Homo sapiens: one gene and its partners. The protein of the gene in region 4 interacts with the protein of the main gene of each other region in a biochemical or structural test. Each region holds a gene or a part of one and is shown on either strand. Other genes may lie near its edges.

Evidence for each region. The genes of interacting proteins can lie anywhere in the genome.
Region 1: the proteins of ARHGAP21 (region 4) and TJP3 interact in a test that uses a peptide from one of them, tested with the Homo sapiens proteins (one large-scale study listed by IntAct).
Region 2: the proteins of ARHGAP21 (region 4) and C3AR1 interact in a test that uses a peptide from one of them, tested with the Homo sapiens proteins (one large-scale study listed by IntAct).
Region 3: the proteins of ARHGAP21 (region 4) and CCDC134 interact in a test that uses a peptide from one of them, tested with the Homo sapiens proteins (one large-scale study listed by IntAct).

The regions. Positions count from the first base shown.
Region 1 is NC_000019.10:3,735,884-3,739,687, reverse strand, and holds part of TJP3 (tight junction protein ZO-3), read right to left. Parts: coding exon 3,753-3,804; intron 3,524-3,752; coding exon 3,367-3,523; intron 1,134-3,366; coding exon 1,025-1,133; intron 792-1,024; coding exon 554-791; intron 1-553. UniProt on the Homo sapiens protein: TJP1, TJP2, and TJP3 are closely related scaffolding proteins that link tight junction (TJ) transmembrane proteins such as claudins, junctional adhesion molecules, and occludin to the actin cytoskeleton.
Region 2 is NC_000012.12:8,059,556-8,063,359, forward strand, and holds part of C3AR1 (C3a anaphylatoxin chemotactic receptor), read right to left. Parts: intron 641-3,804; 5' UTR 631-640; coding exon 1-630.
Region 3 is NC_000022.11:41,824,679-41,828,482, reverse strand, and holds part of CCDC134 (coiled-coil domain-containing protein 134 isoform 1 precursor), read right to left. Parts: intron 2,786-3,804; coding exon 2,660-2,785; 3' UTR 1-2,659. UniProt on the Homo sapiens protein: Molecular adapter required to prevent protein hyperglycosylation of HSP90B1: during translation, associates with nascent HSP90B1 and the STT3A catalytic component of the OST-A complex and tethers them to a specialized translocon that forms a microenvironment for HSP90B1 folding.
Region 4 is NC_000010.11:24,717,032-24,721,141, reverse strand, and holds part of ARHGAP21 (rho GTPase-activating protein 21), read left to right. Parts: intron 1-4,110. UniProt on the Homo sapiens protein: Functions as a GTPase-activating protein (GAP) for RHOA and CDC42. Downstream partner of ARF1 which may control Golgi apparatus structure and function. Also required for CTNNA1 recruitment to adherens junctions.

The DNA.
Region 1 (3,804 bases), on a different chromosome or scaffold from region 4:
TAGTACTTTTGCTCTCCAGAACTGTAAGAGGATGTGTGTGTTGTTTAAAGCCACTAAGTTTCTGGGCATCTGTTACAGCAACAACAGGAAGCTCATACCAGCACCAAATGGGGCCCGCCCAGAGCCTTTTGTGGACCTCCTCAGATTGAACCACCAACACTGCTAAGCAGTGATATCATGCCTATTTATTTATTTATTGAGACAAGAGTCTCACTCTGTTGCCAGGCTGGAGTGCAGTGGCGTGATCTCGGCTCACTGTAACCTCTGCCTCCCAGGTTCAAGCGATTCTCCTGCCTCAGCCTCCCAAGAAGCTGGGATTATAGGCATGTGCCACCACGCCCAGCTAATTTTTGTATTTTTAGTAGAGACGAGGTTTCACCATGTTGCCCAGGATGGTCTCGATCTCTTGACCTCATGATCTGCCCACTTCAGCCTCCCAAAGTGCCAGGATTACAGGCCTGAGCCACCGCGTCCAGCCCAATCGAGCCCATTTCTAACGGGGAGACTGAGGCTGAAGCAGAAGTGCCCCACTGCAGGAGCACACAGTCCCCACCTGCTCTGGTTGGGAATGATGCCCCGCTCTTGCTCCCGCAGGTCACGACCCATGCGCACCGCCAGCCAGTGGCCTCCTCGTGCGTGGCTCTGCCCGGGGCCGGGGTGCAGCGTGTCCAGCACGTGGAAGACGTCGCCACGGGTGAAGCCCAGGCCAGACGGTGGACTGGGCTCCAGCTCAAAGTGAGTGCGGATGTAGAAGGAGTCACCCACGCGGGACTGCACCATTTTCCAGAAAACTGGGGAGAGCGGGAGGCCACATGAGCTGCCTGGGCTGCTGCCTGATCTGAGCCCTCCCCACCCGAGAGTGGGCCTGGCTGGAGATTTGGGGCACTCTCCCTGTAGGGGCCAGGGAGAGGGATGGAGGGTGCAGAGATGCAGATTCAACCACATCCCTGCACTCACCACCAGGCCACACAGCCAGGTCCTCCCCCCGCAACACACAGGCACACCCATATCCACGCGCACTCACTGTCCTGCTTCCTCTGCGTCACCAGCTCCATCTCCTCGCCTGGTGGCAGCCCCAGCAGGAACTGCACTGCCTCCTCCCGTGTCAGGTTCTGGAATGGCACGTCATTCACCTGCCAGAAAGCAAGTGCAGCTATAGAAAAAGCTCTGGTACCTCTTGGGCGTGCATGAGATCCTGGACCTTCCTCTGGGCAAAACTCAGCCCCAGCTGCTTCCAGAGCTGCTGCCAAGGGACCCGGCAGTTCCCCGAGGGCTTTCCGACTGGGGTATCACCCTATGGCTGTGTGATGTGTGACACAGACAGCTGGTGGCATTGTAAGGATACAAGAGTTTTGACACAGAAACGGGCACAGGCACTGCACTTGTCCTCAGATAACCAAATCATGGTGGGTTGTCAATATCAAAACATGGGAACAGAGGTCATGGCATGGAGCTCGATGGAAACTGTGTGAAATGCTCAAAAGAACTCAGACGTAGTCACAGTAGTCACAGGGTCGTGACAGGGACAACGATATATGGACACACAGTGGGTCACAGATGCCTACCACCAGGGTCATGACAGGGACAACAATATATGGACACAGCCATCTGCTCTCCGGGTCATGACATGGACAGCAATATACAGACACAGCCACCTGCTCTCAGGGTCATGACATGGACAGCAATATACAGCCACCTGCTCTCCGGGTCATGACATGGACAGCAATATACAGCCACCTGCTCTCAGGGTCACGACATGGACAGCAATATACAGACACAGCCACCTGCTCTCAGGGTCATAACAGGGACAGCAATATACTTGCACAGCTTGTGGGCACAGACACCTACTCTCGGGGTCATGACGTGGATGTCAAGGTTAGAATCCCACAAGCAAAATGAGTAGAAATACAGTAAAAAATACCATGACCCTCAGGCAATTTGGCATCAAGTTTTCACCCAGCCAGTGGGCTTATGACATGGAAAGTGGGGAGCTGTGACTCCATCATGAATCACAACTCACACTGCAAGGTCAAGACACAAGCAAGGTCATGAGAGCAAAGTGGGGGTGAGACTTGGTGAGTGAACTCGCGCAAGGGACAGGGGAGACAGCCTGGGGATGAGATGAGGCAAGGACAGAGATGGGGGGATGATGAGGGGCTGTGGATCCTGGAGGTAGTTATGACACTGTCATGAAGGCAGGACACAGGCAAGGTCACAACACAGACACAGGGGATGGTGGCACAGAAAATGACTATAAGTGGACATGGAGATCATGAGAGAATGATCTGTGACCTGACCACACGATTAGGACATACAAGACGGTCATGACACGGTCAACACAGCCAATGTCAGGAACAAGAGGATTGCGACCCAGACAAGGTCATGACATAGGCAATGAGGCTGTGACCCAAAGTCCTGACATTGATAACAAGGAGATTGTGACATTGATAACAAGAATGTCACATGAACAATGTCATATGACATGAACAACAAGATTGTTGTTCCCAATCTTGAGCACAGTGTCTCAAGCTTATAATCTCAGCACTTTGGGAGGCTGAGGCGGGTGCATCACTTGAGGCCAGGAGTTCAAGACCAGCCTGGCCAACATGGTGAAACCCTGTCTCTACTAAAAACACAAAAATTAGCTGGGCATGGTGGCGGCCACCTGTGATCCCAGCTACTTGGGAGGCTGAGTCAGGATGATCCCTTGAACCCGGGAGGCGGAGGTTGCAGTGAGCCAAGATCACACCCCCGCACTCCAGCCTGGGTGACAGAGCAAGACTCTATCTCAAAAAAAAAAAAAAAAAAAGTTAGCCAGGCGCAGTGGCTCATGCCTGTAATCTCAGCTACTTGGGAAGCCGAGGCAGGTGGATCACCTGAGGTCAGGAGTTTGAGACCAGCCTGGCCAACATGGCGAAACCCTCATCTCTACTAAAAATATAAAAATTAGCCGGGCGTGGTGGTGGACAACTGTAATCCCAGCTACTCAGGAGGTGAGGCAGAAGAATTGCTTGAACCTGGGAGGCAGAGGTTGCGGTGAGCCAAGATCACACCATTGCACTCCAGCCTGGGCAACAAGACCAAAACTCCATCTCAAAAACAACAACAACAAAAAATGAACCCAGATAAGGTCAAGGCACAGAAAAGGAGGTTGTAACTGGACGATGAGGTCATGACCTGGAAGATAAGGTCGTGACATCAGCAAAATCATGACACAGCCAAGGAGACACTGAAATGTTCAAATACCCATCTGGGGTCTCGACAGTCCCCAGGTGGACCCAAGGGGAGGACTGGAACAGACAAGGGCAGGACCTAGCACACTGCACGCCCATGATCAGTGGGGCTGGCCAGCCGCCCCCGGAGCACCTGCAGAATCTGATCTCCCTCCTGGATGCCCTGCCCGTCGGCCGGGCTGCCCGCCTGCACCCCGGACACGAAGATGCCCACGTCATTGCCCCCTGCCAGCCGCAGCCCGATGCTCTTGCCCTTGAGGAAGCGGACCACACGCGTGTCGGGGCTGTACCTGCAAGGGGAGGCAGAGATGGGGTCAGAGCAGAGTGGGCGGACAAAGGGAGGGCTCAGCATTGTCCTTGGGAAAGCCCCCACCCCCTCCAGGCCTCAGTTTCCCCAAAACCCCCACTTAATGGTCCCACTCAACACAATGGATACAAGCAGGCAGGATTGCGCTGATGAGGGAGGCAGCCTGGGATGTAGGAGTTTTGAGCGGGTTTGCTTTCTTCTGGGGTACATACCCACGATCCTCCATGCTCTGACTGCTGGGCACTCTGTAGATGTCATAGCTGC
Region 2 (3,804 bases), on a different chromosome or scaffold from region 4:
CCTATCATTCATTTCTCCAGGCGGCTGAACAATGTTTTCAAGAGACCTGTTTTCTAGTGGATCTCCATAAAAGTCTGGATAATCTAATGAGCTGGAGAGACCAAATTTGTAGCCACATCTATTATGGTTGTCTGTAGTGAAGATTTCCCGGTACACGAACACAGGAATGCACATCACAAAAGCCACCACCCAGATACATCCACAGATAGAGCAGGCCATCCCTACATTGCGATGATTCTGACACCAGATTGGCTTGAATACCACAAGACAGCGATCCAGGCTAATGGCAGTAAGCAGGAAGACACTGGCAAACATGTTGAGGACAATGATGGAGGGGATGAGCTTGCATAGGAACCTGCCGTAGGGCCACTGTCCCTGGAGAGCCAAGTGAGCCAGCGAGAAGGGCAAGGAGAGGCAGCAGAGGAGGTCCGCCAAGGTGAGGTGGAGGAACCAAATTGTGTTCACTGTCCGCTGCATCTTCAGGCCAGCCACCCACAGCACCAGCCCATTGCCTGGCAATCCCAGTAAAAAAGTAAGGCTGAGAATGACCATGGAGAGAATTACTGGGGGCTCATTCCATGGCTGTGAGAGTAGGTCAGTTGAATTGGTCTCAGCAGAGAAAGACGCCATTGCTAAACTTCTGCAAAAAGATGAAAAAAATGTTAAAACAAACAGTATCTTTTTGAAAATGCATACATATTCTTAGGATTCTAATCTTCCCACATAAAGATGTGGGATCATGAAACCAGAAGGTCCTCACGCTGTTTTAGTTTGCCTTCCTTCACCTCACACGGGACCACATAAAAGCATTCTCTGATAGACAATTATATTTATTTATTAATTTATTAATTATTTTTCAGACAGAGTCTTCCTCTGTCGCGCAGGCTGGAGTGCAGTGGATTGATTTCAGCTCACTGTAAGCTCCGCCTCCCGAGTTCAAGCGATTCTCCTGCCTCAGCCTCCAGAGTAGCTGGGATTACAGGCGTGCACCACCACGCCTGGCTAATTTTTGTATTTTTAGTAGAGACGGGGTTTTGCCATGTTGGCCAGGCTGGTCTTGAACTCCTGACCTCGGGTGATCTGCCTGCCTTGGCCTCCCAAAGTGCTGGGATTATAGGCATGAGCCACCATGCCCATCCTATGATAGACAATTTAAAATCTACTGTATTGATTTATGTGTGTATCAAAATCACAGCCTCATCTGGAAGTCCATATTAGTGTAAATTTCTCCTCTTTCTTGTACTTTCAATCTTGGTTTTTCCACTGGCTCCTTTCTTCACCCAGTGTGTTTAAAAATAAACAAATAAGCTAAATAAGTAAACACACAAAAATATCTGGACTGGAGGTCTCCAACCTGAGGTCACGAAAGGGTTTTAGGAAGTTCCATCACCACCTAAAATGATATGCAAAACTTCAACTTTACATATTCTCATTTCTCTGAGGGCAGAAGCTTCATCCACTCTCCCCACCAGATTTTCAGAGGACTCGCCGCCACAGAAAGAGGTACTCTAGACTCAGCGATGTCTTTTAGATACAACTCCATCTCCTTTTGCTTTCAAATTTTCCAAGAGTTGTTGGCCCTCTGCATTGACTTCCTCACTACCTATCATTTCTTTCTTATTTATTTGTGTTTTATGACCGTAACTTGGGAAAAGAGCTTTATTATTACAAAAGCAAAAAATATGCATGAAGAAAATTGGAAAATATAGACAAACAAAAAAGAAAATAAAAATATACTCACTAGTCAGTGATTATTATTTTAGCACCTGAATTTATATCCTCTTGACCTTTTTTTATGTGTGTGTGTGCATTTAGGTATACACATGCGTATCTTTAGACAGCAGGGGCTGTGATGGCTAGAAGCCTTCTAATATGTGGGACAGTGCTTCATTTATTTATTTATTATTATTATTATTATTATTTTTGAGACAGAATCTCCCTCCGTCATTCAGGCTGGAGTGCAGTGATACAATCTCGGCTCACTGCAGCCTCTGCCTCCCGGGTTCAAGCAATTATCGTGCCTCAGCCTCCTGAGTAGCTGGGACTGCAGTTGCCCACCAACGTACCAACTAATTTTTGTATTTTTAGCAGAGACAGGTTTTGCCATGTTGGCCAGGCTACTCTTGAACTGCTAGGCTCGAGTGATCCTCCCTCCTCTCCCTCCCAAAGTGCTGGGATTACAGGTGCGAGCCACCGCGCCTGGCCCTAACAAAAAAATTTTAATTGCCAAACACATGTATCATAACATTTACCATCTTCACCATTTTTAAGTACACAGTTCAGTAGTGTTTACCATATTCACGTTGTACAACCAATTTTCAGAACTTTTTCATCTTACAAAACTGAAAATGTGCTCAGGAAAGAATTCCCCATTTTCTCCTTTTCTCAGCCCCTGGCAATCACCATTGTACTTTCAATTTCTATGAATTCGACTACTTTAGATATCTGATCTAAGTGGAATCACACAGTATTTGTCTTTTTGTGTCTGGTGTATTTCACTTAGCATAATGTCTTCAAGCTTCCTCCGCGTTGTGGCATGGGTCAGAATTTTCTTTCTTTTTAAGGCTGAATAATATTCCATTGTAGGTCTATACTTCATTTTGTTTATCCAGTCATTCCACAGAGGACATCTGGATTGCTTTCACCTTTTGACTATTGTGAATTATGCATCAATGAACATGGGTGTAAATACATATTTTTTATACATTTTTTTCTTTTTTCAGTTAGCAGTCTCCACATTATACAATATGTACCATAAGGAATACCCGACCTTTATCTGTTTTGTTTCTGTTTGTAAAGATGGGGTCTTGCTATGTTGCTCAGGCTGGTCTCCAACTCCTGGGCTCTACTGATTCTTCCTCGGCCTCCCGAAGTGCTGAGATTACAGGCACGAACCACCATGCCCCCCCTTTTATATGATTATTTTTCAACTGTCCCTAAGACATCTTTTATAGCTGGCTTGTCCACGACAATATCTACTTCAGATCGCACTTTCTTCTTAAGTCTCTTAATTTAGCATAATTTCTCTTTTTCAAGGATACTGCTTTGTTTTGGGGCCTACGCCTACTGTTCTGAACACTAACTTCTTCTTTTTTTCTTTTTTCTTGAGATGGAGTTTCGCTCTTGTTGCCCACGCTGGAGTGCAGTGGCGCGATCTTGGCTCACTGCAACCTCCTCCTCCCGGGTTCAAGTGATTCTCCTGCCTCAGCCTCCCAGTAGCTGGGATTACAGGCATGCGCCACCATGCCCGGCTAATTTTTTTTTGTATTTTTAGTAGAGAACGGGGTTTCTCCATGTTGGCCAGGATGATGTTGATCTCCCGACCTCAGGCGATCCGCCCGCCTCGGCCTCCCAAAGTGTTGGGATTACAGGCGTGAGCCACCGCGCCCGGCCCTTTTTTTTTTTTTTTTTTTTTTTTTTGTGATGGAGTCTCGCTCTGTCTCCCAGGCTGGAGTGCAATGGTGCGATCTCGGCTCACTACAGCCTCCGCATCCCGGGTTTAAGCAATTCTTCTGCCTCAGCCTCCCGAGGAGCTGGGATTACAGGCGTGTACCACCACGCCCGGCTAATTTTTGTATTTTTAGTAGAGACGGGGTTTCACCATGTTAGCCAGGATGATCTTGATTTCCTGACCTGGTGATCCGCCCGCCTCGGCCTCCCAAAGTCCCGGGATTACAGATGTGAGCCACCAGGCCCGGCCGGCCACCAACTTCTTAATTCTTTGTAATGTATCTTCTGCTTCCATAATTCTGCTAAAATTACTTCTAAAAACCAAATCCAAACGTTTGTTTCTCAGTCACCTTC
Region 3 (3,804 bases), on a different chromosome or scaffold from region 4:
AGAGGAAAGAGCCCAGGAGGAAGGAGGTGCCAGAAGGGGCAGATGAGGAGATAGTTCAAGACCAGGCCCCACTCTTTGGCTCTGCATATATAGCAGGCAGTCAGTAAATACATGGGATGAACAAGGAACCGTCAGAGAAGGGCACACATCACTGAGAAGTCACTTAAATTCCAGGTTTCATCCTTTCAACCACTGGGCATTCTGAGATGGGGGGCCCAAGGATCTGAGTGTGAAGAGCCTGGTTCTGATAACAACAGCTGGCAAGAGACAGCCCAGGCTGGTCCCAAGTTGCCCAGGTCTTGCCACCACACTGGGCTGGCTTCCCCATTGCTCTGCAGTTGCCCAGCTCTGCTTCAAATTATACAAATCCTGCTAATGACAGAGCCCGTAGAAGTTATTCAGTAGAAAGAACCTCCAGCCGAAGCTGGACCCACCACTGACTGTCCTGAGGTATGCTTTAGCCTCCCTGCCACCCCAAGAAAGCTAGGTCTGCTGCCAACCAGGCCTGGTTCTTAGAAAGTTTTTTCTCCAGTTAAGGGGAAAGCCAAGCACCTTCTCTGCTAAGTCAGCAACCACAACCACTCTCTAGCATGAAAAGGACAGCGACTGGCCTGGTCCTTCCGGCAGGGAAGAGCTTGCGGGCTGGTCCTGACACCCAGCTCCAGCTGCTGGCACCAGGACAGGTTAAACAGCTGAGCCAGTGAATCTGACCCTTTCCCGTTGATGCAGGAAAATAGGGTCTGGAGGCAGGGAACATAAGGCCAATTCACGCTTCAGCTATAACAGGGAATATCCTCCCCATAGGGTATATGCTGTAAATGAATTTGTAAATTTACTTCATCCTTTCCATTTACATAGGGTGTACCTCAAGTAACCAATGGAATCCTCTAGTGGGTATTTACTCCCAAAAATTCTGTAACGGGCCCCTTGAGTCCCTATGCTCAGGCCCTCTCCCATGCTGTGGAGTATACTTTCATTCTCAGTAAAACCCTTCATTCCTTCCTTGCTTTGTGCATTTTGCCCAATTCTTTGTTCAAGACATCAAGAACCTGGACACCCTCCACTGTTAATGCCATGGACCAGCCCTTTAGTTCACAGACTCGGGTGTCCATGTGGCTGGGGTCACACAACCTGAGAAGGGCAGGGTGGAGATGAAACTATGTCTGTTGAGTCAGTCCCACCACACTGCCCTGCCTCCACTGCCCAGTGAGGGGCCTTCTGATGGGGAAATTTCTCCAGCACTCCTCCCAGCCCCCACACCCAGCTCTCTTCCAGCTGCTTCTTGTCCCCTTACTTCCGAGTAACTGATGGGTGCAGGATGTTCTGGGCCCTTCCATGAGGCTTCTCTAAGGCTTGGCTTCCCTTTGCTGCTGCAGCCCCGTAGGGAGGCCAGCCTCAGAGAAACAGGTTAGGGCTGGGCAGGGGATACAGATACCATCAAATTCATTTTGCCAATGAAGCTGCAGCACAGGGAGGGGTGGGCCAAGGCCAGTCAGCAAATCTGAAGGGCTAACACTCAGATCTCACTTGTGCTCTGTCAGTGGTAGGGGGCTGGGTGTCGAGGGGATCTGGGATGGTTTTCTCTGCTCCTTTAAGAGGCAGATCCTGACTTGGCAAGGTCAAAGAGGCAGAGCTAGAATTCTCACTAAAGCCCTTCCCTCCTCTGCTTGGGAGGGGCATGAGTGAAGGGCAGCTGCCCTACCCAGGGCCACATGCCCTCTGCAGCTTCCCTGCCCTGTGGCCTCCCGAGACGGGAAGCTGTCTGACCCATGCAGCTTAGGGCAGCCATTGCGGAGCACGGCCTCCTGCAGGGCTGCGGCCTGTCCCCCTGCAGCCCCCCACCCACAGGTTGACTGTCTTCCAGCGCTGCCAGAGAGAACAAGCTGACTTCCCTGTGCTTGCTCAATGACTGTCCCCAGACATCTGAGGACAGGGATCATGTTGCTCCAAGGTCTTCTTGAGCTAAATGTTTCCCAGGTCCCAGGGCACTTCCAGGTCCTTTCCCAACACCAATCATTTGTCAAGGGCAGTGATGGCGTAGGACCAGGAGGCCCAAGCCAAGCCCCTTCCTTCTCTGCCCTGCCAGGGCCTGGGGCCCCTCCTGGTGGGGCAGAGGCATCCTCCAAGCTGTTTCTACATCCCTGAGGGGCCCTGGTCCCCTCACAGTGTCCCCACCAGCCTTGGTCGGTCCAAAGGGTCTGCTGGCTTTTATTGTGTCTCTGCAGAGGGGCTGGGACCTGTGCCAGGCAGCTCTGTGACACAGTGGGGCCAGCAGCAGGGTGGCACCCTGACCCGTGGCTCAGAACCTAGTTCTGCTGCTTCCCCACCAAGGGCGGAAGCCAGCTGGCCAGAGGTCTTCAGCCACCAACAGGGTCCAGGCAGGCATCCTCCTGCCTCCCCCAGCAGTCTGCACAGGGTCATATTTCCAGCATAAAATCCTCTGAAGGCCCCTTCAGCAGGAGGCCCCTGAGAGAAAATCCAGCCATCTGAGGCTCAGTCCCTTCAGCTGGGGCTCAGACCCAGCTCCAGGGGGCCGGGCAAATGTGGCCTCCCCTTCTGGAAGGGGCTAGCTGGTGCTCTCCACCACAACCACACCTCCACCTCTTCTTCCTCCCGACCTGCCTCCTTGTGGCCCCCTGAGCCCTGAGCTGCTCCAGGGCTATAACTCAGACTGGGATCTGGAGATCCTTGGGCCTTTTCGGATCTCCTTCCGCTTCTCCTCTTTCTTTCGGCGTTTCTCTTCTTCTCTCAGGGCCTTCTGGAAAGGGTCAGTGCTGGGAATGAACTGAAGGGAAGAGAAGAGCAGTCTGATTTAGTCTGTGGCAGCAAAGAGCCTGCTCTGAGCTAGGCCACCAGCGGGGTGTGGGAATAGGAAGGTTCCCTGGACACAGGCCCTGCCCCAGACACGGAGACAGGAAATGGGTTTGGGAGAACTGCTGAGTGGGTGTTGGAAGATAAGCAGGAGTTTGCCAAACCAACGGCATGAGGAAAGGGAAGGGTATTCTAGGTGGAGGGACGGATGCTGAGGTGGGAACCTACATGGGGCATCTGAGAAACAACACACAGACTCCTCCAGGGTGAGGGAGTAGAGTGGCTGAGACCACCACAGACCCGGGAGCCCCACACCTGCTGCACCCTTCAGGAGGAGAGGAGGGAGGTCAGCCAGAGTCACAGATGACAAGGCAAGTGGGGGGGTGGAGGATGAGGACTTCATTGGCGGTAGGGGGTGGCGTGGGGGCATTCTTCAACTGCAACCCAGGCCCTTGGCTGTCCTCCCTCCTCTCTCTCCAGATTGTCTCGTCTAACTCATAGCTTCTGTTGGCCTGTGTGGTTAGTTACCCCTCAAACTTGCATCTCCATTTCCAAATGCCTGTCTGAGACCTCCTTTAGGATGTCCCAAATGCACCCTAGACTCAGTATGGTTCCCTCTCCCCAGAGTCCCTGTTCTGATGAGCAGCAGGGCAGAAACCGAGGAGCCCCACCTGCACCCGGCATTCCCTCTCCCTCCTCGGGTCCATCACCAAGGCCTGGCTACTTTCAAGCCCTAAATCTCTCTCAAACCCATCCACTTCTCTGTCTCTACTATTGCTGCCCCCATCACCACCCCCATCTCTCTGCTGGATGACTCTAGGGGCCTCCCAAGGGCTTTCCACATCCCCTTTGGTCCCTCTCAAGTCATTCTCCTCACTGCAGTTGGATCTTTTCTTTTCTTTTCTTCTTTTTAGACAGAGGTCTTGCTCTGTCGCTCAGGCTGGAGTGCAGTGGTGAAATCTTGGCTCACTGCCACCTCCACCTCCCGGGTTC
Region 4 (4,110 bases):
GCATCTAGCATCTAACATCTTCCCAAGGGCCCAGAGATTTTACTCCAGACTTCCTGAAAATTTTTGAGCAGGCAGGACAGAAATCATAGAAAATACATTGATTTATGACACGCATATACTCTGTTGCCTCTCACCTTTTTTTTTTTTCCTCGTGTTTGGAGATTGAAGTATTCGGAATTTACTTCTATTATGAATATACTATGTTTATCATTGGCGGTTCCTGTAATTTGTTCTTTAAATAGACTGAATATTGTTATCCTTTAAATTTTACTTTTGAGATGCCTATGTTTTCATTGAAGGGTTGAGGATTACTTTAGACAATAACATACCCAAATGAACCCTCATTCACTGTCTCACTTTCTTTTGCACCGGATGTTAAATTTTAACTTCATAGTCCTTGAAACAAGGGCTGGCTCTAAGTGTGTGAGTTTTGGCATTTTAATAAAAATGAATCAGAAGTTAAATTTTGGTTCATAAAGCAAGCGGAGAAACTTGCTTCATGCAGCTTACTTCATGTCGAATTAGAAAGTTTATGCAGAAAACGTTGTGAGGTACAGTGTGCTATTACTGTACAATTTATTAGGCAGAACTGTAGGTTTACATTTAGAATCAGTGTTTTACTTTTTGACATCTGTAAACACCTGCTTGCAGGCAAAAGCATGATTAAGTGGAACACCACAATCCTCTGATCACGGTAAACCATAATAACTCCTTTTGGAAGGCCTACCTGCAACCTGGTGATTGCTTAATGTGTATTGCAGTTACATAATAATATGTATTGTGGTCCTGAAGCCTTATTTGTCATTGTCTTGTGAATACTTTAATTAGCATTGTATTTGCATTCTGTTTGCAAGAACTAATGTTATTTGATTTTTTTTTTTTTTTTTGGTCATTTAAGAGATGTCCTGAAACCAAGAATTTAGACACATCTTGTCCTTGGCTAGCAAGCAGTATTTCCAGTTTGTTGCACACTTGGCTTTTATTAACAATGACAGTTATGTATTTTTTAACGGCTGTGAAATTTGTTTTCATTTGGACCTTACTGCTGGCAGCATGGCTATCTTGTTTTTAAGTTTAGCAATGAAGAAAACACAATATCACCTGTGTTTTGCTTATGTGAAATATATATACAGTATTTAGGTTTGGTATTAAACTACAATATTATTTGACTTTCTAAAGAATAGGTATTTTGCCTAGATTCTATGTGGAAGTGGAAATAAAGGGGATATATGTTGTCAGAAAACATTTTAAAACCTCAGGGTTGGGAGTGAAGAGAACTTGTGTAATTATTGCCTGTATTTAGTTGTGACGTGTTTTAATCTGTGATTGATGCTTCTGATACACATTAAATCTTGTGAATATTTTTTAGTAATAGGGAGTTAGTTGCTAATGAAATACTTTGGGCTGATATTTAGGTTTTTGAACATTGCATTTAATTTTTGTCGTCAATTTTATTAGAAGCACTACATTCCACAGTGGTACTATCACTCTTTAAAAAATTTTAAAAATCAATAATGTGTTTGGATACTACATTTATTATTGTGTTTTTAACTAACAAAGAGATGAGCATGTGTGTCTTAATAGTAATGCTGTTAATCAGCCAAGAAAACCTAACTTTATAGGACAGAAGAAATCAATGTAATGAATTAACAGGAGTCTCTGTTTCATGCTTTATCTAATTAGCCAACTCCACCTTCTCTGAATAAGGCCTTGTGCTTTGTTGAAAAACAATCAGAGATTTCTTGTTCATCTTAAGCATTGCAATTTTATTGTGTTGATATATGATATACATTTAGGCCTCCCCACCCCCAGGATATATTGGAAGCCTCAAAACAAATAAACAGCCCTCTTCAAATAAGAAATTAGGACAGTTCAGTAGAATATGTCTTGGCATTATACAGTAAGGATGGTCCAGATGGTACTCACACGAATTTATATACTTTTATACATCTCAAGGTGTATTTTTAAAACTTGAAATCACTCACTCTGAACCTCTTAAGTGATTTTTGGGGTGTGTGTGTGTGTGTGTGTGTGTGTGTGTGTAGTCCGTGAAGTCTTCTGACACCAATCCTTGAGTAACTTTGCTCACAAAATCACTTTATATAGATTCTTCTGTTGAATCCTCTATGATATTATCACCCCTTTTCATATCCATATAGCTTCATCTTTCAAGGTTTAACTTTTTTTTTAAGCCAAAGAAGAGAAAACTTTCCCTCAGCTTTCTTAACCACATGATTTTTTTTCCATTTCTAACATTTATTTCATTTTTTATCTGTAGTCCATACTCTTGTCCAGTAATAGAATTTTTGTCACTTTATTATTAAACTTTTTACTAATGCAAATGAACTTATTTTTGTTTTGCTTCTTGACCTAGGCTAAGATTATTCTATGACTGAAATGTATTATGGCTGATGAAATACACTTGTTGGTTGATTTTGAAATACTGTAAACAATACAATAAGACATTTTTCTGGGTACGAGTTTGTATGAATCCATGTGTTGACTCTTCCTTCTGGAATGCTGGACAGTTTGCTTTTGCTTTCATCCCAGACTCCCTAGTTCCTTCTCAGGCGCTCTCTCTTCTCCTCCCCTCCTTTCTATCTCCCTCTCTATCTGCCTCTTTTGTAGGGTTTTTCTTCCTCTTCTTGCCCCATTGTTGGTTTTATCCAGAGCCAAGGCCTTTCCATTCCTGTATTCTCTTTCTCACTCCCTGGGTTTTATTTTGCACTCTCCTGTGTGCTGGTGACTCCGTATCTACCCCTCTATCTCAGGCTTTATGGTTGATCTCTAGACCTTTTCAGCCAGTTGCCTATTTACCGAACACTTTTGGGGGATATTCCCCAGGCATTGCAAACTCATCAGATTTCACCGCTACCGCTGACTCTCCCTCTTCCTGTGCACCTTCTTTCGCTGAGTAGCACTACCATCTATTTATTGGTCCAAGTCAAAAACTAGGTCAGCATTCTCACTCTTCCGTCTCGTCATTCCTCATATGCAAAGTCTTGTGGAGTCCACATTCCCAATACCCACTACCCCCACCTGAGTTCAGGTCAGCTGCATCTCACTGATGAACCACAGAAACAGATTCCCTACGGAGTTTCCCAATAACTTAGCCTTGTCCCCTTCCGCAGCTCTGTCCCTACTGTAATCAGAATGATCCTCCTGATGGGCAGATGACCTGAGGTCAGGAGTTGTACACCAGCCTGAGCAACATGGTGAAACCCGGTCCCTACTAAAAATACAAAAATTAGCTGGGCGTGGTGGCGCACACCTGTAGTCCCAACTGTTTGGAGGCTGAGGTATGAGAATCCTTGAACCCGGAAGGCAGAGGTTGCAGGTAGCCAAAATCGCGCCACTGTACTCCAGCTGATCGTTACATTACCTCCTATAAGACAATTTTCTGTCTTCCCATTTCCTTTGAAATAAAATTCAGACCTCTGTGAAGTCTGAAAGGACTTTGGTAATTTGGTCCGCGCTTCTGTCTCACTTGTTACTTCTTTTTGTTCTTCCTAGATTGAACTCCTGTCAGGTCCTTTCTTCTACCCTTCCCTCTACTGTCCCCTGTTCCTCCTCCCTCTGCTCCATGGCTGATTTTTACTCATCATACTGGTCTTTTCTTCAATACTGCTTCCTCAGGAAAGCCTTCCCTGACCCGCAAGACTCTTTCAGTTGCCCCTAGTGTATTCTCTCAAAACACCCTGCACTTTCAGGAATACCAGTTACAAGTTTATCTATATCCCCCTTGGATTGCAGTCCCTATAAGAGCAGGGACCATGTTTGTTTCCACAGGGACTGACACATAGTAAGTGTCAGGTGATATTTTTTGAATGAATAAATGAATATGCAGGAAAGGCTTTACATTTTATTCAGTGTTCATTTAGATTCCCGGACATTATACTCTCTTGATTATCTTCCTTCCTCGTTGTCACCTCCTTCTGTCTCTTTGAGGTTTCCTCGACATCCTGATTTGCTAAACCTTTCTACACCTCAAAGCTCAGTTAATCCTCATTTCTTCTCCCAATACTGTTTCATGGTTTTAAATATCAAGTATATGCAGATAATTGACACACACACACTCACTTATATTTCTTTATGTGTACATGTGTATAT